Linked DNA regions of Homo sapiens: region 2 is linked to region 1. The links come from fine-mapping of genetic effects on gene expression. A gene starts in region 1. The other region holds a variant in brackets. All regions are shown on one strand. Distances are from middle to middle. Region 1 holds the start of DNAJB12 (DnaJ heat shock protein family (Hsp40) member B12). Region 2 overlaps DNAJB12 (DnaJ heat shock protein family (Hsp40) member B12).

The links.
Region 2: its variant is fine-mapped to the expression of DNAJB12 in whole blood (TOPMed, PIP above 0.99).

The regions. Positions count from the first base shown.
Region 1 is chr10:72,349,505-72,359,406 of GRCh38, reverse strand. DNAJB12 (DnaJ heat shock protein family (Hsp40) member B12) reads left to right here and starts at 4,488. Exons shown (of 9, transcript NM_017626.7): 1 at 4,488-4,642. The coding sequence starts at 4,510. RefSeq lists enhancers at 4,262-4,511, 4,902-5,031.
Region 2 is chr10:72,329,097-72,338,998 of GRCh38, reverse strand. It overlaps DNAJB12 (DnaJ heat shock protein family (Hsp40) member B12), which reads left to right. Exons shown (of 9, transcript NM_017626.7): 6 at 688-797; 7 at 2,303-2,475; 8 at 3,068-3,219; 9 at 4,382-6,136. The coding sequence ends at 3,189. Among named protein-coding and RNA genes, the nearest start is that of DNAJB12, 21 kb to the left of the region's middle. RefSeq lists enhancers at 3,093-3,212, 3,773-4,182 and a silencer at 6,689-6,938. The variant CAGTG/G (reference allele first, on the strand shown) is at 5,459.

The DNA of each region.
Region 1 (9,902 bases):
TTGCAGTGAGCTGAGATCATGCCACTGCACTTCAGTCTGGGCAACAGAGTGAGAATCCATCTCAAAAAAAAAAAAAAAAAAAAAAGCAAAAGGAAACAGTGGCCGGGCACGGTGGCTTATGCTTGTAATCCCAGCAATTTGGGAGGCCGAGGCGGGCAGATCACCTGAGGTCAGGAGTTCCAGACCAGCCTGACCAACAAGGTGAAACCCCATCTCTACTAAAAATACAAAAATTAGCCAGGCTTGGTGGCATGTGGCTGTAGTCCCAGCTACTCGGGAGGCTGAGACAGGAGAATTGCTTGAACCTGGGAGGCAGAGGTTGCAGTGAGCCAAGATCGCGCCACTGCACTCCAGCCTGGGCGATGGAGCAAGACTTTGTCTCAAAAAAAAAAAAAAAGAAAAAGAAAGAAACAGCTTAGGGACCAAGATGAGCAGCAGAGGGGGGCAAGGAGAAGAATGCAAAAATAAGGCATAAAGGGCCCCTACCACAAGCAGCCCGCTTCTCCACATCGTTACTGATCTGGACCCTGCCAATCAAGCCAAAGCACTGACCCACAATTTAAATAGGACTTTGTCATTTTATATGAATTGTAGGAAAAGAGAAGGGCTCACCCGTCAGTAGTTGGCCAGTCACAATCCAGTTCCCTAACACAAGAAAATGACAGACTTTCTTTTCTACTTGATTGCCTTCTTCACAGTGTGAAGTAGAGTCATGCACCACATCATAACATTTTGGCCAACTACAGACAGCATATATGACAATGGTCCCTTAAGATTATAATGGAGCTGAAAAAGTCCTATTGCCTAGTGACATTCATAGCCATCATAAGGTCATAGCACAATGCATTACCTTTTCTATGTTTAGATACACAAATACTTCCCATTGTATTCGGTATGGTAATGTTCTGTACAGGTATGTAACCTAGAAGCAACAGGTCATACCTTAAACCCTAGGTGTGTAGCAGGCTATACCAACTTAGGTTTGTATAAGGACTCTATGATGTTCGCACAGTGATAAAATCACCTAACAACACTTTTCTCAGAACATATCCCTGTCATTAAGTGACACATGACTGTATCTTGTAGTCAGCAGGAGAAGACAGGCCTCATGATAGGAAATGGAAGAGGATACTTCATGATTCTTAGCAGGAGACAGGAAGATGGAAATTGTCGTGCTAGGTCAACAAACCTCAGAGAGGCTGTTTGAAAAGGATCCCAGCATTTATCCATGGACACATTAGGGACCTATCAATTTGTAGAGAACTTAAATTTCTCCAAGTGTAGGACTGTCTTATCAAGGAGGGTCTGTACCAGGCCAGCATGGAGTCGTAAGGGTTTGCATTGGAAAGGGAAAAATGGGAATGGAAAGGAAGGTTGGATGTGAAAGAATTTTCCAAGGAGCATGTATAGCTGAGGAGGCCATGACCTTGCTTCTTTCTTATGTGTGTATTTATTTATTGAGACAGGGTCTGACTCTGTGCCCAGGCTAGAGTGTAGTGGGGCAACCATGGCTCCCTGCAGCCTCGACCTCCCAGGCTCATAATCCTCCTGGGTAGCTGGGAGTACAGGCGCATGCCACCACACCTGGCTAATTTTTGTAATTTTTTTTAGTAGAGATAGGGTTTCACCATGTTGGCCAGGCTGGTCTTGAACTCCTGACCTCAGGTGATCCACCCACCTCACCCTCCCAAAGTGCTGAGATTACAGGTTTGAGCCACTGCGCCCAGCCACCTTTACTCTCTTGAATCCATTCCTGTTGGGTTTTCACCCCTACCACACACTAAAAGCCATTTTATGGTCAGGCACAGTGGCTCACACCTGTAATCCCAGCACTTTGGGAGGTTGAGGTGAGAGGATCACTTGAGCCTAGAAGTTTGAGACCAGCCTAGGCAACACAGTGAGACCCCATCTCTAAAAAAAAACTTAAAAAAAAAACTAGCCAGGTGTGGTGGAGCACTCCTGTAGTCCCAGCTATTCAGGAGGCGGAGGTGGGAGGATTGCTTGAGCCCAGAAAGTTGAGGCTGCAGTGAGCCATAACTGTGCCACTGCACTCCAGTCTGGGTAACAGTGAGACCCTGTCTCAAAAAAATAAAATGAAATAGATAAAAGCAATTTTGTCAAAGTCAACACTGCCCTCTACACTGCCAAATCCATTGGTCATTTCTCAGGCCTCACATTGCTTGGCCTCTCCACAGGATATGACGTTTGACCCCCCCTCCCTCCTTTTCTAAAAAAACTGTTTGTAGAGACCGTGAGGGGGGGCGGTCTCATTATGTTGCCCAGGCTGGTCTTGAACTCCTGGGCTAAAGCGAGCCTCCCACCTCAGCCTCCCCAAGTGCTGGGATTACAGGCATGAGCCACCATACCTGACCTACTCATTTCCTTACAACCTGCTTCTTCACATTCTCCTTTACTGGATTTTCTTCCTCTTCCAGATCTTTAAATGTTGGGATTTCGTGAGGCTCAGTAATCAGACTTCTCTGCTCTTCTCCATCTACACTCACTTCCTTGGTGCATATATATATATATATATATATATATATATATATATATATATATATATATATATATATATATCACAGCTCACTGCAGCCTTGACCTCCCATGCTCAAGTGATCCTCCCACCTCAGCCTCCTGAGTAGCTGGGACTACAGGCGTGTACTACCACACCCAGCTAATTTTTTATTTTTTTGTAGTGATGGGATCTCACTCTGTTGCCCAGGCTGGTCTCAAACTCCTTGCCTCAAGTGATCCTCCCACCCCTGGCCTCCCAAAATGTTGGGATTATAGGAGTGAGCCACTGTGCCTGGCCCCAAAGTTATATTTCCAGGTCCTTTTTGCCTAAACCCTACGTATGTACAACATCCTAGTCTGTATCTCTGCTTGATTCTAAAAAGCATCATAAACTGAATCAAACCCTTAATATTCCCCCACCAAACTGCTTTTGTAGTCTTTTCCATTTCCTTGTTTTAGTAAATAGAAATTCTCTTCTTCCAGTTATCAAGCCAAAAACATTGGAATCATCCTTGAATCTTCTTTCTCTCACAGCCCACATCCATTGCGTCATTCTGTCTTCAAAATATATCCAGAATTTTACTACTACTCACCACCTCCGCCATCACCCTTATCCAAGTTACCATTAATTTTCACCTGTATTATAATAGTAGCTTCCTGACTCTCATCCGGATTACTGTAGTAGCATCTTACCAAATCCTGCCTGAAAGGCCAAGCAATGTAAGGGCTGACAGATGACTCGGGGATTCGGCAACGTGGAGGTCACTGGCAACCTTCACAAGATTGCTTTCACTGGAGTGATAGCCCTCGAAGAACGGGATAATGATAGAACTGGATTACACTCTGTAGTAGAATCTTTTTTTTTTCTTCTTTTTTTTTAGATGGCGTTTCACTCTTGTTGCCCAGGCTGGAGTGCAATGGTGTGATCTTGGCTCACCGCAACCTCCACCTCCCAGGTTCAAGCGATTCTCCCGCCTCAGCCTCCCGAGTAGGTGGGATTACAGGCCATGTGCCACCATGCCCGGCTAATTTTGTATTTTTAGTAGAGACGGGGTTTCTCCATGTTGGTCAGGCTGGTCTCGAACTCCTGACCTCAAGTGATCCGCCCGCCTCGGCCTCTCAAAGTGCTGGGATTACAGGCGTGAGCCACCGCGCCCAGCCTGTAGTAGAATCTTTACGCTCCCTAGAATGTATTCGCCTTCCTGATCTGTTATAACTCACCAAGAGAATTCCCTTTTCAGAGCCTTTGCACTTGCTGTTCCTTCGGCCTGACCACCCTTCCTCCAGACAGTCACATCTACCTGTTATCGTTCCTGAATTCTGGTACCTGTTAATGACAGCTTCTGAGAGGTTTCTTTTATCGCGCTATTTAAAATAGCGCCTCCCACTCTCTATCCCTGTGTTTTCCATAATTTTTCTTCAGAGCTTTTATCACTATCTGAATCTATCTGGAGCTCCCCCAGCCTACACACACTGGAATGTAAGCTCCATGAGAGCAGGAGCTTTGTTTTGCTCACCCCTGTATCCCCATCATAAAACCATGCCTCACAAACAGTGGGCACTCAATATCTGTTCAGTGAATAAATAACCTTTGTCTGAAACGTATGTAGTTACATTACGTATATAGATCACCACTTAGTAAACCGTCTGGGAATAACAGGCACTCCGAAGGCCCCAGTCTCATCCCGACGGCTACCACGTGACCTTCCTGAGCTTGGGTTTCCTCCTCCGGAAGATTAGAGGGTTGGCGCATACTCAACTCTAAGACCTCCGGAACATGGAATCTGGGCGTGCACCATTATTGACACCTACACCAGCCGTCCCTTTCTTAGAAGACATACGGTAGCACTTCCACCCTCGCTCAAAACTCGGGAAAGGAGGGGCGGAGGGTGGATGTCATCACTCCGCGCCCGGCTGCCCGCGACGCGCCGGCGGGTGGCGCAGCCCTTCGCTCGCCCGGCCTCCCCCTCCCTGGTTCCGCGTTCTGGTTCCGCCATGGAATCCAACAAGGATGAAGCTGAGCGCTGTATCAGCATCGCCCTCAAGGCCATCCAGAGCAACCAGCCCGACCGGGCGCTCCGCTTCCTGGAGAAGGCACAGCGGCTGTATCCGACGCCGCGAGTTCGCGGTGAGTGTGAGGTGCCGGAGAGACTGGGGACATTAGAACTGATGGGGGGAACACGGGAACGGACCGACGGGAGCAGTTGGGGGAGGGGGAGGGGTGGCGAGGCGCGGCTACGCCTGCGCACTGAGGCGCGCGGTGGCTGCTGGGAGGCGTAGTTTTTCCCTCTTGTTCCTCTGCGGGATGCGAGCCGTCTGGAGACTCGGGCGGCCGGGACTTCAGCTTTCGGGGTGCTGGCGGAGCCCGCTGGGGTTTGAGGTCTCCGAGAATGAAACGCGCTGGCAGCCGGGACGAAGGGAACTTACCTGGAAGTGAACTCGAACTACTTTTCCCAAGGGGCCGTTCGGTAGCCCAGGCCAGTCGCCGGCCTGGGAAATATTACAGTTCAGGAAAATAAACATAACTCCTTTAAGGGAGAGAATGGGCGCTAGACAGGGAGACATTTCTGTTCTTCGGGCGCCAGGGAAAGGCGCTTCCGTATCTTCACTCCCTCTCACCTCTCGGGCTGAGGGTCAGGGACCACTCTCCCAAAATGCAAGCCGGCCTTTGCACCCACCCCAGTCCGCCGCCTCGGACTGTCCTGAAGCCGGGCCCCTCACTCCTCCCGATGATGAGATTCGGAGCGGGTGGCCTGGTGGGAGGTGCTGACCTCAGCCACCGCCAGTCCTCCATCGCCCGCAAGAGTCCAGCGGCGGTCAGCCATGTGGACGCCGAGGCTGCTGAGTTGCCCTGGACAGGAGCCTCCTGAGCCAGGGAGGGAAGAGTGAAGCTGGCTTTACAACTCATCACCTCGCTTCACCCGGGAACCCTTTCTTTTTTCTTTAACCTAAGTTTTCCAAGGAGTTTTTCTTAATCCACGCTAGAGGGGAGAGAGACACCGGGTGGTGCTTGTGATCACCACTCAGTAAACCGTCTGGGAATAACAGGCACTCCGAAGGGCCCAGTCTCATCCTGACGGCTACCACGTGACCTTCCTGAGCTTGGGTTTCCTCCTCGGGAAGATTAGAGGGTTGGCGCAGATAATGTGATTGGCAATAATACCCATAGGGCTTTGCAGTTTAGGAAGCTCCTTCACCTGTGCCTTCTCACTTGAGCCTGCCAGTCAGGGATGCAGAGCAAAGATCATTATCTTTATTCTATGGGTGAGGAAAATCTCTGAGGTAAGGGATGCCCAGGATGACACAGCTAGAAAGTAAAATGTTCTGTGACTCTGTAAATGTTTATGAAGGAAAAGAAATGAAATTGAGGAACAGCAGTCAGCCTCCTAACCGGCCCTGCCCGCCTGATGAGATTGAGAAAGCGGAACGCTGGTGGAAGAGGTAGCCTGGACTGCTGAACTTTCCTCCCTCCGGACTCTTGCAGGTTGATCTTTGGCCTGTTTGCCTCCCCTTGGAGAGGGTTTCGGGCTGTATTTGCCAGGACACCTGAGGTAACCTGCTCGAGGAGCCTCCCTGTGAATTAATTCATATTCTGTGGTGGGGTGGTATCCTCCAGCTGTCAGAATTCTGCCTGACACTGATGCTGCTGCGGGCTCAGGAGCAGGCAGCCAAGAAAGGATGGGCCACAGGGCCTCTGGGGATCTTTCTGTCAGCAGGCCCCTGCACCAGTTCAGGAGCTTGAAGGAGTGTCCTCTCTGGGGCTCAGGCTCTGGAATTTGCTGAGACAGAAGAACCACCTGCATGCATATTTGTCATATTTGTGCTTTTCTGGAAAGACTATGAGACTATACGCCTTATGCATCCGTGTAAACTTTACCATCTGCAGCCCTCCACTGAGCTGACAAAGACCTGGGATTAGTTTAGGTCTGGGACAGGGAAAGATCTTACTTCAAAAATAGAGGGCAGGGCTACCCACTGGGCTGGCTACCTGCCTCCCCAGGGGGAGTAATACAGATATATTAGGTGGCGGTCTATTGCTTTGGGTTTAGGCTCATCCCAGATGCTCATTCAATGCAGCAGACTTTTGTTGAAGATCATTTATGTTTTGTTTGCAAAGTCCTCTGCTTGGTGCTAGCAAGATTGGTAAAATGTGATCCCTCACCTCAAAAGAGCTTATAATCTAGTGAAAGAGACAAAACTTACAGAAACAAATATTACAAGACAGAACTGTAATTAAACAAAAAATAAACCCAAGGTTAGACGCTGAGGACTTAAGGACAGGCATGAAAAAATCAGGCCCCATCATCCATGGGTTCACAGTCTGATGGTGGGGAGGAGGTGCGGAGGACAATCTCCTGAACATTAAATTATCAGCAGTTTAGTGAGTGCTGTAGCAAGTGCATAAAAATAATGTTATCTCACAGTGAGGGAATGCTTTGGGGATGACAGGAGTTAACATTTGAATTGTGCTTTGGAGGACGGTGTGAGACTTGAGGAAAGGCATCCTGGAAGAAGACAAAGGAGCTGAAAGTTGTAACGTTTGGGGGAAGAGATCAAAGTGTAGCAAGATTTAGAGGCAGTGGAGGTGGTAATTCGTATACAGAGAGGATTAAGTTTGGGAAATAAAATGGGGCCAGATCATAGAAATCCTTTTCTACCAGGCCAAGATATTTTCACCTTATTCTGTAGTTAGTGAGGAAACCATTGAGGTTTTTGATAGCAGGAATAAAGTACGGGCACTGTTGTTAAAAGAGAACAGCATGAAAGGTTAATGAGAGGGAAGAGAGCTTCAGGGCAGGAAGCCAATAGGAGAGAATTGCCTTGAGCTGGTTGGATATTCTGAGGGCCTGGGACAAGGCAGTCATGGATAAGGCTAAGGTCCCTGGAAAAGAGGCACCAGGCCTGTGTGAGAGAGAGGTGCAGAGGAGAATCAGATGGGATGCTGGGGAATCAGAATTGAAGCCCCTGTGACCAGGAAGAAACCAGGCTGAAGAACTGAGATGGGAAGAGATGAGCAGAGTGGGAGGTGCCAGTGGGATAGTCCAAAGGAGCTGTCAGCCTGGAACTCAGGAGAGCGCTCCAGGTTACAGGTGAAAGTGTGGTATCGTCTGTTCCCTGGAGCTCACTGGAGTTGTGCATGGCTGAGGTCACTGTGGGAAAGTATAGACCATGGAGAGAAAGTTGCTGCAGGCACAATGGCAGGCAACACCTGCCCTGAGCCCACAGGCAAAGGCAGAGGAAGCAACAGATTGAGATGGAGCAACAGGAAAAGGCAGTCCCCGGAGAGGGCAGCGGCCAGGTAGCCATGGAGAGGTAATGGCAGCAGGTGGTGAGCAGCCCTGTGTGATGCCGCAGGCACTGCATGGGAAAAGGACAAGTTAAGAGTTGAAAAGGGAAGGATCGAGAGCATGGGCAGAGGATGGTCTTGGAGAGGTGGAAGGGCAGAGAGGGGAGAGTCACGAGAGAGGGGAGGCTCAGAGCAACCTTGAAAGGATGAGGGACCTCACACTGTTGGCCTTTGCAGCAAAAAGGGATGTGAGGGGGCTTGAAACTCCTGCTGCAGGAGGTGGGACAAGGAGGCACTGAGTTAAACTGCAAAGCAGTAGCTGGGCCCTAAGCTGGGAGGTCACAGACTAGAGATGGTGGAGCCAGTCAGTCCCTTTCTGGGAGTTTCTGTCCAGTAGCTGGCAGCCTGGTAAGCCATTGGCTTTGACTCAGGCTTTGTAACAAATGTGGAAGGTGCCAGATTTCCCAGGGAGCTCACGAGAGCATTTGTAGGCCTCAGTTTCCCCAGCATACAAAGAGAGGATTGGCTGGGATGATCCTGAGGTTCCTTGCAGCTCAGGCTATCCAATGTTCTGTGAAATGGTTGACTCTGGGCTAAGTCATGAAGGCCAAGCTGGGAAGGCCAGCCCACAGGAAAAGGAGACGGATTGCTGAGGGATTCTGCATTCAGAGTCCAGGAGTGAGAGATGTTCTGGTGCTGGCGAGGTCCGGGGTGGGGTTGTACCCTTCAAGTCAGTCAACCTTCATGAGCCCCACTGTGCACTTAGCCCCCTTCCATTCACTGTATTTCACAGAATCTTATTTACCCCTCAGAGCACTCCTATGAGAGCAGAGATCGTCTCTCCACTCAGGAACCAGCTAACCTGGCAAGGCCACATGGCTAGCCAGCAAAGACCCAGAGCTGTCCATCTCCAATCCCAGGCCCTTTTCTGACTCACTGTGAGCACCGTAGGTACACAGAGCCCAGAAACTCAGCTACTCACTTACTAACAAAGTCACGGTCAGAGACAACACTGTATATTTGCTGGGCATTGGGCTGAGTTTTTTGCTGGCATTCACTCATTTCCTCTTTTAGCCTGTATGATGGAGATAGAGTTTTGCACAGATGAGCTAAGTTACCTTGTCCAAGATGACCCTTCTAGCAAATGGCAGAGCTAGGTTTGAACCCATCGGGCAGTCTTTTTTTTTTTTTTTTTTTTTTTTTTTTTGAGACAGGGTCTCACTCTGTTGCCCAGGCTGGAGTGCAGTGGCACAATCACAGCTCACTGCAGCCTCAACCACCCAGGCCCAAGTGATCCTCCCACCTTAGCCTACCAAACAGCCGGGACCACAGGCATGTGCCACCACACCTGGCTAATTTTTTTATTTTCGTAGAGACAGGGTCTTCCTGTGTTGCCAAGGCTGGTCTCGAACTCCTGAGCTCAATCCATTCTCCTGCCTTGGCCTCCTAAAGTGCTGAGATGACAGGTGTGAGCCACTGCCCGGCCAAATCTAACTCTAGTCTGGGTTCAGTGGCTTTGGCCATAGAAATCCTCTCAGCTCTACCTCAGGTGCCTCTCCACCGCAGCTCTGTTCTCTTCTATCGAATTCCCTTCCTTTTCTAAGTCTGCCAGCTTTACTGAGAAGGTAACATTAAGCTGTTCTGTCTCTTTTTGTGACATTGCCTGTCAGCCTCTGTGCCATGAGGGATGTAAGCATGAAGCTGTCACATCCCCCAGGCCAGAAGAGAGACCCTACTTGCCAGCAACTGGAAATCTTTAATTTCCAACTCAAGCAGAAAGCTTCTATGTGACCCAGGGCACCCCCATTCTCCTTTGGGCTCTCTTTCTGTACTGTAGGGAAATTAGAGTGGCTGATTCCCTGTAACTGCCCTGAAAAGCTTCCAGAATCTTCTCTGAGAGGTACAAGAGAGAGCCTGTCCCATCTCCTGGCTAGTGCTCCTGCTCATCTCTGGTAGTTGAATAACTGGTTATTTTGCCCTTAGGATCTGCCAGGCTCAGCCTGGGCCACCAGAACTTCCAGAGGAACTGAAATAATAAAGAGCTTCTTGAAAAGCTCTAGGAAACAGCATACTGCCTCCTCCTCCTGCCCCGCCTTGACCA
Region 2 (9,902 bases), 20 kb after region 1:
CATGAGCCATTGCCCCTGATCAAAATTTTTTTATTTTGTATCTAACAACAGAAGAGTTTAACATCACAGATTATCACACAGTGAATATATTTGTTAATTTTTATTTCTAATTCTTCTTTTTTTGTTTGTTTGCTTTTTCTGCACCCTAGAACCAGTGCTATTTCTAATTTTTATTTTGTTTTAATTATTATTTTTTGTAGAGATGGGGGTGTATGTTGGCCAGACTGGTCTTGAACTCCTGGCCTCACGTGTTCCTCTCATGTTGGTCTCCCAAAGTGTTGGGATTACAGGCATGAGCCGCCACACTGGCCATAATGTTTAAATTGGTAATATATTTGTGTGGTTCACATCTCAAAAACTTGTATATACTGCATGTCTCCTTCCAGCCCTGCCTTCCATTCTCCTGGAGGAAGCAACTTTTGCTGATTTTTTTTTTTTTTTGGCATTCTGTCAAAAGTAAATGCAGACACCTCACTTCCTCCTGTATTTCACACCAGTTGCTGCTTTGTTTTTATCTGGGAAAGCTGGCAGGTGAAGGAGCGTCTGTGTTTTGGAGCCTCGTGGAGGGAACGGCAGAGTGGTGTCATGTCTCCCCAGGCTCCACTATTCTAGGGGAGCTAGTGGTGATTATGGCTGACACCACACCCCACCCAGGTCCAGCAGAGTGACATTGGCTCTTCCCTCCAGGGCGGGCTAGGGGTGTTTGTGCAGCTGATGCCTATCCTCATCCTGATTCTCGTGTCAGCTCTCAGCCAGCTCATGGTCTCCAGTCCACCCTACAGTCTGAGTCCAAGACCGTGAGTACATGGGTGAGGCCGGGCCATGGGCAGACAAGGGGCTTTAAATTCTCAGCCCCATCAGGGGCCTTCTTTCCCATCCTGATCCAGCCAGTGTGCGATCATAATGCAGAAACCTGGCTTCGAATCAAGAAAATATACTTTCTCTATTCAACTAGGACTCTTAAGCTTTTTAGGATTATGGTCCCCTAAGAAATTGCAGCGAGAGCTACAGAACTTTTCCCTAAAACTATGCACACATGTGCACACACACATACACACACACGATACACATGTACACACACACACAATACATGCACACACATAATACACATGCACACATACACGCACACATATACACACAGAGTTTTGCATATAATTTCGGCGGCTTTGTGACTCTTCCCTGCCCATCTCCCCTGCCAACCCTGACGAAGAACCTCTGCTCCTCGGCTCTGGTTGGGCTTCCTGAGGCTGTGGAAAGAACAGGGCACTAGAGTCAGACAGAGCAAGCATGGCTTAGAATCCCAGCTTCTCCACTAAGAAGCTGTGTGACCCTAAACAAGTTATATAACCTTGGTTTCCTCATCTATAAAATGGGAATTATAACATCCACCTGCTGTGGAAATTAATGAGTAATGCATATAAAATGTCTGGCCCACTAGAAATGCTCAACAATATTAGTTTAATGAATGCTTAGTCTCGACTGCCAGGAGTGAACTTGAGGACATTTCATGAGCCGTTAGGGGGTCAGCTCCCCTCACTGATGTCCAGCACCTGGCCCAGGGTCAGCTACACAGTGGGTGCACATCTTCAGTGGGGTGGGTCCCCCTCTCCCAAAAGGTGGCCACCTCTGGCTGGGAGCTGGCAGGACCCTTCTCAGCCAGCAGGGGGCAGAGTCGGTCCACTGGACCCTGGCCGCCGGCTCAGGCTCCCTGTGGCCAGATGCCAGCCCTTTTCCCTGCAACTGGAGAGATGTGAGGAGCAGAGGACTAGGGCAGGGACTGTTGTCCCCAGAGCACTGGTCCTGTCTGGGTGTCAAGGCTCTTCCCACAGCTGACAGAGCCTGTGATTGGAGCTGGGAGGATAAGGCTCCCTGGAGCCCTTCCTGTCATTTTGTTCCTAAGCCTCTTAACCCTACACTGGGAACTCCTAGATAGGCAGGCAAGCACTCAGCAACAATTGGCTTAGGGGATGAATGGGGAGATGGAGGCACAGAGGCAGAGCCCAGATTCCCTCTCAGGTCTCCAGTTCCCTAGACCAGGCCTCTCCCCAAAGGCCCCAGGTCAGCAGTGTGGTAAGCAGGGATCTAAAGGCAGGGCGTCCTGCGGTCTGGGCCACGTGTGTGGGAGGACGCTGCCTTTTCCTCAGACTCTCCTTTCAGGGAGTGTGCGGGTCCCTGCTCTGGTTTGAGAGGGAACCAACTACTCCTCTGGTCTGTGCGGCACCTCCTGTCTTGGGGCCCATACCCCTAGAGTGCCCTGGGCATGGGGACCCGCACCCACTTTGAACCTGGTATTTCTGGCCAGGTCCGTGGGCCACATCCACAGGCGAGTCACTGACCACCTGGGTGTCGTCTACTATGTGGGAGACACTTTCTCCGAAGAGTACACAGGCTCCAGCCTCAAAACAGTCGAGCGGAATGTGGAAGATGATTATATCGCCAACCTCCGGAACAACTGCTGGAAGGAGAAGCAGCAGAGTGAGTGTGGGGGGAAGGCGGGGGCTGTATTTGGGAGGTGGCTTGGGATGAAGCTGGAAAGCAGGGGAAGGAGAGAGCCCTGCTCACCCTGTGCTCTGAGGGCCCAGCCCCTGGCACTGCCCTGCACCAGCCACCTCCCAGACAAGAGCTGGTCTCCACTCCTGTGTTTCTCCGGGGCTGGGAGCCAGGGGCCACCTGGTAGTTTCCTCAGGTTCCCGTAAATCACTGCCATCAGCCCAGCATGTTGGCTGCCAGAGGTGAGTGTGTAGAGATGGACTGGAGCGGATGGATCCCTGGCCACCCCCTGACTGTGCTCCTGGATCTGTCTGTGGGACCCTGGGGAGGCCTGACCAGGATGACAGGGTCTCACCTTGGCTGGCCTCACTGCATTCTAGAGAAAGGCGCCTCTGTCACCCTCGCCCACATAAGGACTGTAGTCTCTGCTCCTCCATGGTCTTCCTAATGGGAGGCCAGCCCTGCCCAAGCCCCGGGCATGTACCAGCTTTCCTCCGCCCTCCACAGCCCTCGCAGGCTTCCTTGCAGGCTTCGGGAGGTACTGGGTGTGCACTAACCCTGTCCCATTGCTTTGCAGAGGAAGGCTTGCTGTACCGGGCACGCTACTTTGGCGACACAGATATGTACCACAGAGCACAGAAGATGGGCACCCCCAGCTGCAGCCGACTGTCAGAGGTGCAGGCCTCCCTGCATGGATAGTCCTGGGCCAGCCACACCACCGAGGTCCAAGTATGAGCCAGGGCTGCCTCCACCCTGCAACTCCTGGCAGCTTTGGCCCTGGTCATGAGCAGAGGAGGGAGGGGGAGAAAGGGAGGAAGCCTGGTGATTGTGGCAAAGACTCCTGTCCCCAGCCTGACCTCCAGCCTCCAGAGACCGAGCAGCTGTGGGGCCTGCTGGGAAACCAAGGTCGGTTTCCGCCCTCTAGCGATGCTGTCCTCCCCACTCCTCCGCTCTGCTCCCTGGCTCCAGGGGTGTGGGGGACCCCAGAACCAGGCAGAGTGGGAACTTGAAACTGTTGCTGAGGGCCACCCGGGGCTTCTTGGTCCACTCCAGCCATCAGTCAGCACGGCCCTTTCTCCAGCACAGCAGACTATTGTCCGTGCCCTGGTATTTAGGCCATCACATATGGTGGGGCCCAAGAGAGCCCCATATGCACACTGCCTGCCTGATACCAGGAAGAACCATGTGGGAATAGGTGGGCCAAGAGCCCTCCCCTTTCTCCATCCCTCCAGCTAGGAGGAAATGGAGCAAGATGAACAGGCAGCCACGAGGTGGGTGGGAGCTGGCAGTCTTGGTGGCGGCAGGGGCCGCGGGCCCTGACCACCCCCCTCTGGTGGGATCTGAGGCACTCTCTCGAATGCCGTCACACCTGGCAGCCTGGAAGCCACAGGCATCCGGCCTTGCCCAGGCATCTCGCCTGCGGTCTGAGGAAGGGAACAGAAGGTCATGAGTTCAGGGTCAGACGCAGCCGCTCAGCACAGGAGGGGTGGAGGGGAAATGAGAGTTGCTGGTAGCAGGCTCCCTCCTTCTGCAGCCCGGCGAATGGGGGCGCTGGGCTCTGTTCCCAGCGTTTGCCAGAGGTGGCCACTTCAGCCAAGCCCAGAGAAGTGTGGGCAGAAGCAGTGAAGGTTCTTCTCTGTGTGGGTGCCCTGCCCACCCCCTCCTTTGCCTGTGTCCTCCCGGCCTGGATCCATGGCTGACTCTGCCTGGAGGCCATTTGTGCCTGCCTCTGTGCTGCCGCAGGAGGGCAGGCCGCAAGTGGGGTTGGTGGGGGTCGAGCGGGCAGCACGGTGCAGCGGTGCAGTGGCAAGGGGGGCTACTTGTGTGGCATAAGCTAGAGGAGCCGGTGCCGCCTGAATGCCGAGCTAACTGTTGCCACTCTCCTCCCCAGACTATGAAATCCCTGGAGAATTTTTGGTGACATGCACTGAGCCAAGGTGATGGACTGTATATTTGAGGAAAGACAAACAAAGAAACAAAATTAAAATGGAATTGGAGGCCGAACGCTGCACAGCTGCCCTCTCTCTCACCCAGTAAATGCAGAAAGCTCTTAGGACAGACAGAAAACCTGCCATGGGGCTGCTTCCCTCCCTCGCAGGGCTGGCGGAGGCTCCGCATCGCCTCTCTCCTAGGATACAGAAACCATGGCAACGAAAGTAGAATGTAAAACTCGCAGCAGATATCAGTGGGAAGGGCTGGGGGAGGGGGCACCCAGCTGCCTTTCCTCCCTCACAGGAGCCACCACCAGCCACCTCTCAGGAGAAGCCAGAGGCCCTGGCCAAAGATAGGAGGAAGAAAGAGAACTCTCCATAGAATGTAATTTATAGATGCGTGTATATGTATATATATCTATTTATATGTAAATAGGCATATATGAAGATATATATATATATAGTCTACTTTTTAAACTCTGCAGGGATTTGGTTAAGTTGTTGAGCTGATTTCTTCCATGTTTTAGAAAATGAGGCCTGTTTGGGGAAGGTACCCTGGTGATGTTTTTGCTAGACATTAGCTGTAGCTGACAGCATAAGGAGAGTCGCATCAGAGCTTTTCACAGCCCCCCGAAACCCCAGCCTGGTTTTGATGGCAGCAGTAATCATGATAGTGTGAACCCGCGAAGGCCTCAGGATTATGGTTAACCTGGAGAGGAGCAGGCCATGGAGGCAGGTGCCAGGTCAGTATTGAGTCACAGTAGAGGCCCCACAAGGACCTGCTTGGGTGAGACCACCTCTCCCCTCTCAGCAGCGCTGGTGGGCTCTTTGTCCTGGTGCCCAGGAGCCCTCCAGCCCCCTGCCCACAGAAGGGAAGGCCTGCAGAGGGGGCCAGGATCTACCTAACCATTTCCCCACCCCTAAGTCCCTCAGTGGGCTTTGCCTTATAGGTGCCACAGGGCACAGCTCCATCATTGCCACTGGTTTTTCCTAAGTCATGCACCAAGGACTTCAGAAAGTTCTTCCTCCGAGTCAGT[CAGTG/G]GTGCCGGGACCCCAGGGCAGCCTCCTCGACTCCTGAAGAAAAGGCAGTGCCCGTGGCTGCCTCTGTCTTCACTCGCTGTTGATGTGACCGCCAGGCCTCCTCTCGTACCTTGGACAAAGGATACACCTGAACCAGAATAGTTTTCTTACCCTCACATTGAAATGAGGATTTTGCTTAAAACAGCACTTGCCGCCAGTGGGAGGAGGGAGGTTTTATTTATTCCCACAGTTTCTCCTGGGCCTTCTGGAATGACCATGTTTTCCTGTGGCGGTGGGTGTGTCATTGCGCCCGCCGTCTTCCAAAGCCTTACTTCCCCAAGCTGCCAGCCAGGAGGTGATAACCACCCTCCCAGAGTTTCTCTCGGCTCTTTTTTTAAAAGTCCCCCAACAAATAGGATTCTTGCTGGGAAAGGAAGTTCGGTAAGGAAATGTCAAATCTGGTTTTTAAACAAGGTCCAACCCTGCAATGAAGCAGCCACTTCAGCCCAGAGAGATTATAAGAACTGATGTGGCCAGAGTGCCTACCCACTGTGGCCCCGGTGCTCTGCCCCCACGCCCCGACCATCTGGTCTTGGTAGATGTCCCTAGACGGGCTGAGCCATGTGCAATAAGAACATAGATCCTAAAGGATCCTCTGGAAGCTGTATTTCTTGAATTAGAATTCTCAAATTGTACATCTGTTAATATATGTTTATTATGTGACTGGCCGTGGTGGGTCTGCATTGAGCAGGGAGGCCTAAGGGGTGGGGGGGAGGGGGCACAAGCCCCTGCTGCTGCTGACACTGTCCAGCCTGTGCCACAAGGAGCTCTAGATGATGAGCCTGAATTTCCCCCGACCCCTGGCCCTGGCTAACAGCCACTTAAGCCACACATGCTGTTCCAGAACTAACTCCATCCAGGCAGAGGGGTGCTCAGGTGACTGGGGGGCTGCAGGACCTGAGCAGTCTGGGTCCCTGGGGTCCCCAGCGCCAGTCCTGGCTGGGCATCTGGGCCACGACCATCACCCTCTGCTTTTCCCTCTCCCAATCCCTCCCCCCCACACCCTCAGGCCTGCCATGTGCCCGCAGAGCATTCGAAATTCCCGGCCCCAGCCTGGAGCTCGATCCCACTCAGGAGCCAGATCCTGGGAAAAGTGTTGCGAGTTTGTTTCCATCGTCCTTCCCACCATCCTCCCCCAAACCGCCCCCGCAGCCCGCCCTCCTCTCCAGGAGGTTGAAAAAGTTTAAAATGTGGCAGCCCAAGTCGGGTCGGGCTCCTGTGAATGGAGCGGCAGATCTGCCCAGGCCTCCCAGAGACAGGGCCCGGCAGCCCTGACTGGCGGACCCAGGCCCCTCCCGCGGCTGCACCAGCCAAAGACAGGCGGGCTGCCCAGTGGTGCCACCGTGGCCCGGGAGCTCATTGGCTGCCCCTGCCCAGGGTCACCACTGCCTGCCCTGGTGTGCAAGCCGCCACTTGTTAGCTGCGGTTGGCAGAGGCGTTGCAGGCACCCCCATTCACCCACCTCATCCCCCCTGCCCTCCCTGTGTGGCTTGGCCGTGAGCCAGAGGAGGTGGGATGCACGCTCTGACTGCAGCAAAAAAGGCTTTGACAAGTGTCCCCCACCCACTGTCAGGTGGCAGAACGCGCCACTGCATCCCAGCTCCCTGGCTCCACTAGCTTATAGCCTTGTCCCTTGCTGCTCCCAGGTCCAGAGAAAAAAAAACTGCTCCAGGGACAAGGAGCACACACCCGACCTGCCTGTAACCTCATCCCCACCCCACATTGCCCAGACAAAGTCACCTGGCGTCTGGAGCAGGCACACAGCCATGCCAAGAATCAGGTAAATAGACTGTTGACATGGTTCAGAAGCAACCCAGCGTCCCTACCAGACATCACGCCATGTGACATGAGCAAGTCAGCTCATTTCCCAGAGCAGGAAACAGGCTTGGGGGAGGAAAGTGGCGCCCAGGGTCTTGAAGAAACTGTGCCTGTCTCTGGGGTCCTTGTAGCAGAGTGGTCATTCTACAAACAGTTGCTGAGCCCAAATTTGCTGCACTCAGGGAAATCAAACCCACTGGTGTCAGGTAGAGTGGGCAGAAGACCCGAGTCCAGGAGGGTGGAAAAGGATGAAAAGGCCACACTGAGGATGGTGGCACTTCATCTGATGGGCTTGGCCTAGGGAGCAGCTGCCCATTCCAGTAGGTGTCTCCTGGCAGTGACACGGGCATCCATCTGGCTGCACCAGGAAACGTCATCCCCAGGAGGCAGCCTCGCAGCCCCCACGGGGGCTGAGGCTGGATCTTTGCCATTTACTGACTGGGTGACCTTGGGTGTCCCTGAAGGAGTTCAGGAAATGCCACCCCAAAATCTGCCATTTTGGTGTGCTGATTACTTCAAACTGGGGGCACTTGAGCAACAGCAAGTGCAGGAAGGGCTTTCTCTGAAGTTGCCTCATCTGCCTAAGTTGTCCTGAACTCCCTCCTGGAAATCTTACCTACCAAGGAGGATTGACTCATTGACAACAACTGCCTATTATTCTTGGGGCTGCTCAGACAACTGTTAAGACCTGAGAGACTGACTTTTTTTTTTTTTTTGAGATGGAATCTCGCTCTGTCACCCAGGCTGGAGTGCAGTGGCGCAATCTCGGCTCACTGCAAGCTCCGCTTCCCGGGTTCACGCCATTCTCCTGCCTCAGCCTCCCGAGTAGCTGGGACTACAGGTGCCTGCCACCACGCCCGGCTAATTTTTTTGTATTTTTAGTAGAGACAGGGTTTCACTGTGTTAGCCAGGATGGTCTCGATCTCCTGACCTCGTGATCCGCCCACCTCAGCCTCCCAAAGTGCTGAGATTACAGGCATGAGCCACCATGCCTGGCCGAGACTGACTTTTTATCTGCATAACGAGACAACTTTTGCTCACCATGCAGTTCCTCCCCTCACCCTCCCAAACTTGCATTGCCATCACCCACCAGAAGCTCCCAGCCCGTTTTTTTTTTTTTTTTTTTTTTGGTTTTTTTTTTAAGGTACAAAGGTTATCCTGGACCCCAGTTCCTTTTCTGTAGCTCAAGATGTGATCTTTCTTGAAATTGCATATTTTGTGGGGCTCCCATGCCTATGTACGTAATTAAATATGATTTTTCTCCTGTTAACCACTTTATCTGTCCATGTAATTCCTAGCACAGTCAAAGACCCTAGAAGGGTGGAGGGAGCCAGTTTTTGCTTTCCTGTGTCATTTGACTGCCCTTTGCCTCAGTGTCTTCATCTGCAAAATGGGAGTGATACAAACACCTACCTCATAGGATGGTTGTGAGGAGTAAACAAGTTACCACATATAAAGCACTTAGAACAGTGCCTGGTACATGGCGAGTGCCATTTGGGTGTTTCTTGTTTGTCCTTAGTGGACAAAGATTAGCTGAGCAATGACTGGGTGTCAAGTCCCATTCCAAGCAGTGAAAGCTCCAAGGTGACTGAGACGAGGACTGCCCTTGAGTAGAAACCCTGGGAGCGGAGCAGTTGTGAAGGCTCTAGCCAGGGACTCTTGATAGAGGAACTGGCGTTTGTGAAGGAGGTGGGTACAGGCAGTACTGGGGTGGGGGTGGAGTGGGTGCTCCAGCATGAGCAGAGGCCCGGAGGCCGGAGAGTGCAGAAGTGAGCGCATTTGGGAGCAATGCCCAGGCCAGGCCCCCAGTCTGTACCTGTCATCATGCCAGGCCCACCCAGTGGCCTTGGGCAGAGAACTTTCCCAGGCATGAATGAGAGACACTGAGCTTCTCCACTCCTGGCTGCACCCTGTCCACTCAGCAATTCACTCAGCAAGCATTTCTGAACCTTTCTTGGTGGCCTGCCTGCCCTTAGGGAGGCTGCAACTAACTCTATAAGCTGAGAGAAGGCCATGTGGTGGAGGGGGTAACAGGGCAGACAGGACTGTCACTCCCGCCCCAGACCCTTGTAAGGAGATATTTCCCTAGGGACAGGGCCTGGACCTCCTGTCACTCTCACAGCCACTTGGGCATGAAATAAAGGTCCAGGGCTCAGGCAGGAAGAGGGGCAGGCGGGCAGGCGCTCTCTAGGACCCCACGGCTAGTCTGCCCAGAGCCCGGGAGTTGGGGCTTTGCTTGGGGAGGGGAGGGCCTGCCACATTTTGTCCACCTTCCCCACCCTCCTACCAATTTGGTCTAAACAAAGTCCCTAGGGAGGGAGGGCAGGGCTGCTCCCTGGCTGGATTTTTCCTTGAGGAGGCAGGGTGCAGCTCCCCACTGGAGCCCGTGCTAGTCAGAGCAGGGATCAGGCTAGGGCCTGCAGGGACCCCAGCTGGCAGTCCCACTACCTCGACTGGATTATTCTCATTTTCCTGATGGACTCAGATGAGGAGGCCTGAGAGACAGGTGCCTGGCAGCACAGGAGGATGCAGCGGGCTCCTTCAGATGGAGAAAGTGGGGCCAGAATGGAGCTGGCCAGGCCC